Linked DNA regions of Homo sapiens. The protein of the gene in region 2 interacts with the protein of the main gene of each other region in a biochemical or structural test. Each region holds a gene or a part of one and is shown on either strand. Other genes may lie near its edges. The genes, in order: MFHAS1 and GPBP1L1.

The links.
Region 1: the proteins of GPBP1L1 (region 2) and MFHAS1 form a complex in vitro, tested with the Homo sapiens proteins (one large-scale study listed by BioGRID and IntAct).

What each region holds. Positions count from the first base shown.
Region 1 is NC_000008.11:8,785,631-8,789,443, forward strand, and holds part of MFHAS1 (malignant fibrous histiocytoma-amplified sequence 1), read right to left. Parts: intron 426-3,813; coding exon 392-425; 3' UTR 1-391. UniProt on the Homo sapiens protein: Probable GTP-binding protein. Functions in innate immunity and more specifically the inflammatory response as a regulator of the Toll-like receptor TLR2 and TLR4 signaling pathways.
Region 2 is NC_000001.11:45,684,121-45,688,033, forward strand, and holds the start of GPBP1L1 (vasculin-like protein 1), read right to left. Parts: upstream 2,414-3,913; 5' UTR 2,292-2,413; intron 1,501-2,291; 5' UTR 1,456-1,500; intron 1-1,455. UniProt on the Homo sapiens protein: Possible transcription factor.

The DNA.
Region 1 (3,813 bases), on a different chromosome or scaffold from region 2:
TTCACATTTAACAGAACTGAAATCTGAGTGCTCTAAATACTGCCACCTGTACTGTAACTATGGCTTATATGTGCACGGAAAACAAAATCCCTGAGAAGCCATTCGACTTTTTTTTTTTTTTTTTCTTTTCTTCAAGTAGCGCGCTCCTTGGAGGATCACAGTTCTGAGGTTCAGGTTGTAAAACATTTGCTCCATGTTCTCGTCCATGCTTCCCCCCACCACCCCCTCCCCACCTCTTCCCCAGTCGTCCAAAAAGCACCCTGCAAGCACGCGTTGTCACTCAAGTTCACAGAACACGCTGGGGTGAGTGCAGAGGGTCTGCCAGGTGCAAAAGATGGTCCAGGTGTTCAGATGCTCTCTTTTCTCCATGGAAATTCCACAGCCACAAACGTCACTGGTTTCTGTGCTTTTCACCAACATTCTTCCTGTATGGGTGGACAACAAGAAAGCACAGAGATGACAAAAACGTACTGGACAATGCTACCCTCAATAAGAAAAGGAAGTGATGATAGAAATCTATTTTCTGCACATATTTTCATTTCTACTTCCAGGACTCATTATAAACATGTAAATGTCAGGCAACTTATGTCCCCACAAAGGAAAGAGTCATTTTAGCAGTCTATTTGCCAAACATTTCTGTTGGTGTGTTAAGCTCAGTTCAGCTATAAGAGGGAACTGTACTAACTGGCTGTCATCACTTATTCCACTGTAATTTTATAGCTTAACTAGACCTCTAACTAACAACCCAAAACTCTAAACACGGAACTGTTTCCTTTCAATAAACACACACGGTCACACGCAGACACACACCAAATAATCCTCTAGAAGAAGGAATATATACTAAAAAGTGAGATGTCTGTCTGCCTAAAATGCATGATTTTACTTAAAATGTTATAAGTTAAGTTGTCCACGCAAATCTGGAGTCTGATCAATATAGAATGAATAAACTACTGCAGCCTCAGCAAATAAAGCGGGATTCAGTTCCGATAAAATGGTTAGAGGAAAAAATATCAAGTGTTTTTCTCATTTTTGCTTCCCTACAATGACATGTGATGGGATGTTTTTGAAAGTGGTTTTTTTTTTTTAGCAACTTTTAATAAAATATACAAAGACATTGAAAGGAAAGGAAAAAGGAGTTACGATTCGTTTCCTCCAATCCCCCATCTCTCATTAGGAGAGACGCTGATTTCATGGACACTGATAATTCAGCATCTGCCTAAACACTTCTCCAGTCCATACAAGATTCAGTCATGGGCTCATTCAAGCATGATAATAACGACATCACCAAAACAAAGCAAAGCAAAGCAAAACAAAACAAAACAAAACAAAAAAACCAAAAACCTCTCATTTACTAACTACATGCCAGGAATTAGGTTGTTCACTCTAGTGCATTATTTATCTTCAACTCCTAATAATCCCACCATGTAAGCTCCATCTTACTCAGTATTATTATTATTTTTTTTTTTTTGAGACAGAGTCTCGCTCTGTTGCCCAGGCTGGAGTGCAGTGGCGCAATCTCGGCTCACTGCAAGCTCCGCCTCCTGGGTTCATGCCATTCTCCTGCCTCAGCCTCCCGAGTAGCTAGGACTACATGTGCCCGCCACCACACGCGGCTAATTTTTTGCATTTTTAGTAGAGATGGGGTTTCACCATGTTAGCCAGGATGATCTTGATCTCCTGACCTCATGATCCGCCCACCTTGGCCTCCCAAAGTACTGGGATTACAGGTGTGAGCCACTGCGCCCGGCCTCAGCATCTTACTAGGAAGGGAACTAAGGTTCCAAAAGATGAAATAACTTCCCCAAGGGTGCATACTAGCGAGTGACAGAGCCAGGCCTTTCACTAGGGTGATCTGACTCCAAAGCTCAAAGAGAAGTTGGATATTTGGAGCCCTAGGAAAGAGTTTCACATTTCTAAGGCACTCTGCCACGAGAATTTTTTGAATGCCTATTAATATAGTAAACTCCCAGAAGAGAGGGTTTTGAAAACTGCCTCAAATTCAACTAATAATATAATCAATCTAACTGTAAGGAGGACGCCAGTGTAAAAACACACGTCTCAACCTAGCAGCTAACTTTGGTGGTGTGAGTTTTGGGTTCACGTGGGAGATGTGTTACATAAACATTTTCCCACTGAATCTGACAGACCTTCAGAAATGCAGACAGTCTGCTCCCCGGGCTACACGTAAGACTGAGAAACACAAGAATACCTAATCAAGGACACCTAGACGGAAAATCCCACTGTTCAACCAGCTTGAAAATTGTTTCACATCTATATGCCTTTTTCCACATTTGGGATCTTAGAGAAAACAACCATCAAAATCACCAACCTTCTCTGTTTCTCCCCACCTCTCTAGCTCCATAAACTTGTCCTCCTTCTTCAAGATCCATCTCAAGTACGACTTCCTGGAACTTTTCCTGATTCTTCCTGGTAGAGTTCTTTCTTCCCTGTGCTTACAAGACTCTGTTCATACACCTATCATGGCAGGTACCATGTTTCAATTATAATTAGACTCTGATAAGTTTGCCTGGTTATGGCTTTGATTCCTATCTTCTCCAAAGAGGCTATTAGGTTCTGGAGGGCAGGATTTGATTTAGTTCTTTATGTATCCTCAACACCCGGCCCAATGCCTACTAGAGGATAATTACTCAACAAAGATCTGTTGAATGAATGATGGGTCAGATGTGATGAAAAAGCCACAGGTAAAAAGTAGCCAAGATACTATGAGATCATTACCAAAAGAGGTATATAAAAAGTACTGAGGAGAGCCAGGTGCGGCAGCTCATGCCTGTAATCCCACTGCTTTGGAAGGCTGAGGCAGGCAGATCACCTGAGGTCAGGAGTTTGAGACCAGCCTGGCCAACATGGCAAAACCCTGTCTCTACTAAAAATGCAAAAATTAGCCAGGCGTGGTGGTGCATGCCTGTAGTCCCAGCTACTCGGGGGGCTGAGGCAGGATAATTGCTTGAACCCAGGAGGCGGAGGGTGCAGTGAACCAAGATTGTGCCAATACACTCCAGCCTGGGTGACAGACCAAGACTCTGTCTCAAACAAAGAAACAAAAAGTATTGAGGAGACATGAAGAACAGAGTGACTGGTTACAGTTAGGATGGTTACGGGAGGCTCCCCAGAGGAGCTGACATATGACCTTGGCCTCAGCGACCAATGGGCCTTAACTGGGTAGGAGAGAAGGGCAGCAGCCAGCCAGTGGACTGAGAGGCAGCCACGGCCCACCACGGCTGACCTCCCATGGTAAGGGAGTATCTGTGTGTTGGCAGAGTGGCTGGGTCTGATTGTGCAGGGCCTTGTGAGCCACGGCCAGGAGTTTGAACTTGAGCCTGTGATCACCAGGAAGCCATCCAAGGCTTTTCAACAGGGAGAGATGTGATGAGGTCTGATGTTAAAAGACAATTATTGTCGGTTTGAAGGACAAAAAGATAAGAGAGCAGGCAGCCAGCTGAGACTCAGTCACAGGAACCTTGGCAGAGACGGGGGAAGTGGTGGCTGGGGGGGTTGGGCCCTAGAGGGAAGCCCGAGGCTGAAGCTGAAGATGTGGGTCAAATTCATTCATGTCACGACACAGATGAGATGGGATAAAAGGTGTTGGAGAATTACTACATATAGGGAAGAAAGCAGAGGAAGGCAATGAGGCTTACGGACTCCTAGCTTGGAGCCGATGGTACAAAGCTACGCTGTTACCCAAGACAGGTCACAGACTGAGGAAGAACTTTGCGGGAGGAAGGCAATAAATTCAGCTGTACACCTGTGAAGCCTACAGACATCCAGGGATGATGCCACGTGAGACATTGGAAA
Region 2 (3,913 bases):
AGTGGTGAGCCCCTGTAATACCAGCTACTCGGGAGGCTGAGACAGGTGAATCGCTTGAACCCAGGAGGCGGAGGTTGCAGTGAACAGAAATCAAGCCACCGCACTCCAGCCTGGGCAACAAGAGCGAAACTCCGTCTCAAAAAAAAAAAAAAAAAAAGAAAAAGAAAAGAAAAGAAGGAAAAAAAAGTAAGTAACAAATACAAAGCACTTTAAACAGCAGTCAGTCCCTGGCACATCAGAGTTATAGCCATAAAATAAAGATATGCAATCTTCTGAAGTATGATTCACGATTGTGTCTTATCTTTAACTCAAAATTAAAAATGAATTACAAGCAGAAATGTGCACCAGATTTCTTATCATTCTAAATTTAAATGGTTGAATGTGTCCTCCTCAGCTAAGCATTTTAACAGCCACTGATGAGCAATCTAGTAAATTGAATTCGCTCAAAATAAAGGTTTCCCCAAGAGTTCCCCCCACACCACAAATCAAGAGCTCTGATAAAGACACCATCCAGAATCAACTGAATGTTTATATTAACATGTACAAACCACTGAGTACCCCCCCAAAAAATCAATATCTCACTCCAGTTTAGTAGTTAACAGTGACAAAACACAAAGCAACTAGCTTGTAATTTCTATTAAAAACTTTAAATATTTTTCCTGTAAAACCACCAAAATAATTTAACAACAACAACAAAAAATCCTAGGGGTATTAACAAAAACCAACTTTTGTATTTGAAAAAACGTCAAAAGGTACATTGAAAACTGACTCCCTAGGAAAGATGAGTTTATTTTACTATTAATTTCAAAGTTCTCATTCACAATTAGCATTTCACTCTTTTATCTTTTAAATAGATACAGGCTTCAGCACCTTTCCAAATATTGAAATTTATTGGTTTTGGTTTCCAATCTATGACTTTTTGTTTAAACTTCTGGATCTATCGATTAAAAAAAAAAAGCAAACAAAAGACAGTCTCTTGTTCAAAAGGGCACGACAATCAGGTACTCCATACCTAAAGTATGTTTTCACTTGTTAAAATGTCTTACACTATTCTAGTAAATATCTCAAACTTAATAGCACCCTAATTTCCTTTCAAATATTGGATAAAAAAGACCTTAGAAAAGATCAGCAGTCTACTAAATTACAAATATAAGTCTAATGAGGAGTGACTACCAATCACTTTACTTTTGGATAAGATTTACACAAGAACACGACTTACTACTAAACTAAAACATGAACCACTATTATTAACTGTATTTTTCTGGTAAGCAATAAATGTCAATGTTAAAAATATTTCAACAAATATGACAAGCCAACTTCAGAGCACGAAGTTGGCAGATAAAATTGACACCACAGCACAATTTCAAAACTATAAGCAACTATTAAACACACACACCACCGCACCGCACCCATTCTTATGTAAACTTTTGGAATAGTCAACTTTGTGAGCCTCACCTTTGTTTTCACCCAGCATAAGGAGAGTTAAAGGTGAGACACCAACTGCAAAAAACCAAAATATCAAAAGATTCAGTTAATGTCCCCACAGGGGAAAGGACTAAAATCTTTAAACGTTAATGTATTTAAGTAATCGAAGGGCAGGGCACTTCCCCAAGCTACAGCCATTTTGGATTCAGACTGTCTTTCGAATTTCACGGGTTGGGGAGAACTAGATTTAAAACAACAGAAAAAAAATAACACTTAAAACATTTCAGGATCGACCAGCTTTCCCTGCCCCTCCAAGGAAAGGAGGTTGGTAGATATCGGATAGACTCAATCTAAGCGAAAACACCTCGCTACCACAGAGAACCGGAAAGCTGGGGGTTAAAACTTTTTTCCCCTCAGATATCCAACATTTGACTTACACTTTTTCCTCCTTAGGTTTTCCTTTGAAGGAAAACAAAAGCCCTTAGCTCTCATTTCAAGAAGGAAAGAAAAAAACCCGTAAGCCAAGTCACTCAACGAGCACCAAGCCGGATCGCCTGGAGAGGAGCCAAAGAGCCGCAGGTGAGCGTTCCGACCCGACGACCGAAGTTAAAGTAGGAGCGCTTTCGCGGAGCCCCGGCGACGCTCGCGTGCAAAGCTCCATGCACGGGGGAGGCGGGGGTGCCGCATCCGAACCACTTGACCCGTGGGCTCCGCTCGCCCCTCTCGGGTCGGACCTATACCCAACCACCTGTGTGAGAGCTTCTTTCAACTAGTTTTAACAGCCCGTTGGTTAGGCACCGGGCGGAGCCCCGCGCCAGAACGACTCCAGGATCTCCTACTGCCCCGTTTCCCAAACTCCCACTCACCGGGCAGCGGCGGAGCTATGGCCAGGGACTAGACGCTGCGTCTGAGGACGCGTCCCCAGCTTGTCGACCCGGCAGAGGCGGCTAGTCCACAACCATAACAAAGCTCTTCCCAAAATGGCTGCCCGGCCCACAAGGTCCAGGAGGGGCAGAGCGGGTGGAGGAGGAGGAGCGACCAGCAGCACGGCCCTCCCATCCCCCGTCCGACCCCGCCTTACACACGCCCACCTGAAGAAGCGCATGCGCAAGGGACTGCTCCGGCGACCCTCCCGGACGCCAGTTCCCTACGCTGCCAACGTTCGGCCTCCAGAACGGCGGTTATGCCCTGCCCCGCCCCCGGCTCCCTTCTTCGCCGCTTGAGGCGGCGCATGGTCACCTCTGCCCCCTACAGAATTGAATCCTCTGCCTTTCCTCGTGCCGCCTGAGGCACGGACAAGCCTAGTTTAGTACGCCCCTTCTAACCCCCTTGCCCACTTCCAGGGCCTGGGCGCGTATGAATGAGTGGGTGGGTATGCATGTGTGTATCCCTTTTTTCTTCACCCTCCCACAGCCCGCCCCTTGGCCAGTGCGCGTCCCGAAACTACCTCTACAAGGACTTGCAAACCGGTTTCGGAGGAACGTGTGTTTTCCGGCCCTTTCCCACCTTCCGCTCCTTACTTCTCGTGTGCGCGTCGTTGAGACTCCAGTCCCCAGCGGGCCACACGGCCTGGCCCCGGAGGCTGCGCGGCTGCGTCGGCCGCGCTACCCGCTGGGAGTAGTAGTTCCCCTGGAGCGCAGGCGTCACTCCCCCGCCCAAGCGAAGGGCGGGATTCCGGCGAGAGCCTGCGCTTGCGACAGTGCCGTTTCTCCTACCTGAAGTCTCATTGGGTATCGCACTACTGGAAGGGGCGGCGCTGCCATGACAGAGAAGGCAATAAAACTGAAGGCCTAGCTCGACTAAAAGCGCTTACTATTAAGGAAGACTTCGCTGTGGCTCCATCCGGCACGGAAAGCTAAACCGTGTAATGGCTGGCAACCAGGAAGCTAGACTACCTAGAATCCGGAGGATTGGAGGGACTGGCCGGCGTGGGCCCCTGAGATCTCCTACTACATGTCTTCAGTTTTATCCATAGACACGGAAGGGCACTAAAATTGCCTGGTGCCATTTCCTGTGAAACAAGTCTAGATAAGAGAAGGGACTTGCCCAAGGTCACATAGCCGAGAAATAAAGCCGAGGGCAGTAGGAGAAATGATCTGACTTTCCGAACCACCCCCAAGCCTAGGGCCCTTATCACCACACCTTTCATGGAAGTGAAAATCCTGCTCTTGTGCTCTTTAACCCTTAATGAAGTTTATAGGTCCCAGCAAAGAAAATGGATGTAAGAACTGGGCTTTTTTCCCCCTCTAAATGATAGTAAAGGGCCCTAATGCAGTGAGATGTGTCCCCATAGGCCTTATAAACCCTGTTTTGCAAAGTAAAACATAAGTCCCACAGATGGCAAGCAATTCAGGTCACACTGGGCCTAAAATCCCGTCTCTTACCTTCCTTCACCACCATCATTCTGAGATTGTTTCAGTACTTGCACTCTACTTACCCGAACTCTGTGGGCAGATTCTGCTGCCTGGGAGCCCTGGAATAGAACTTC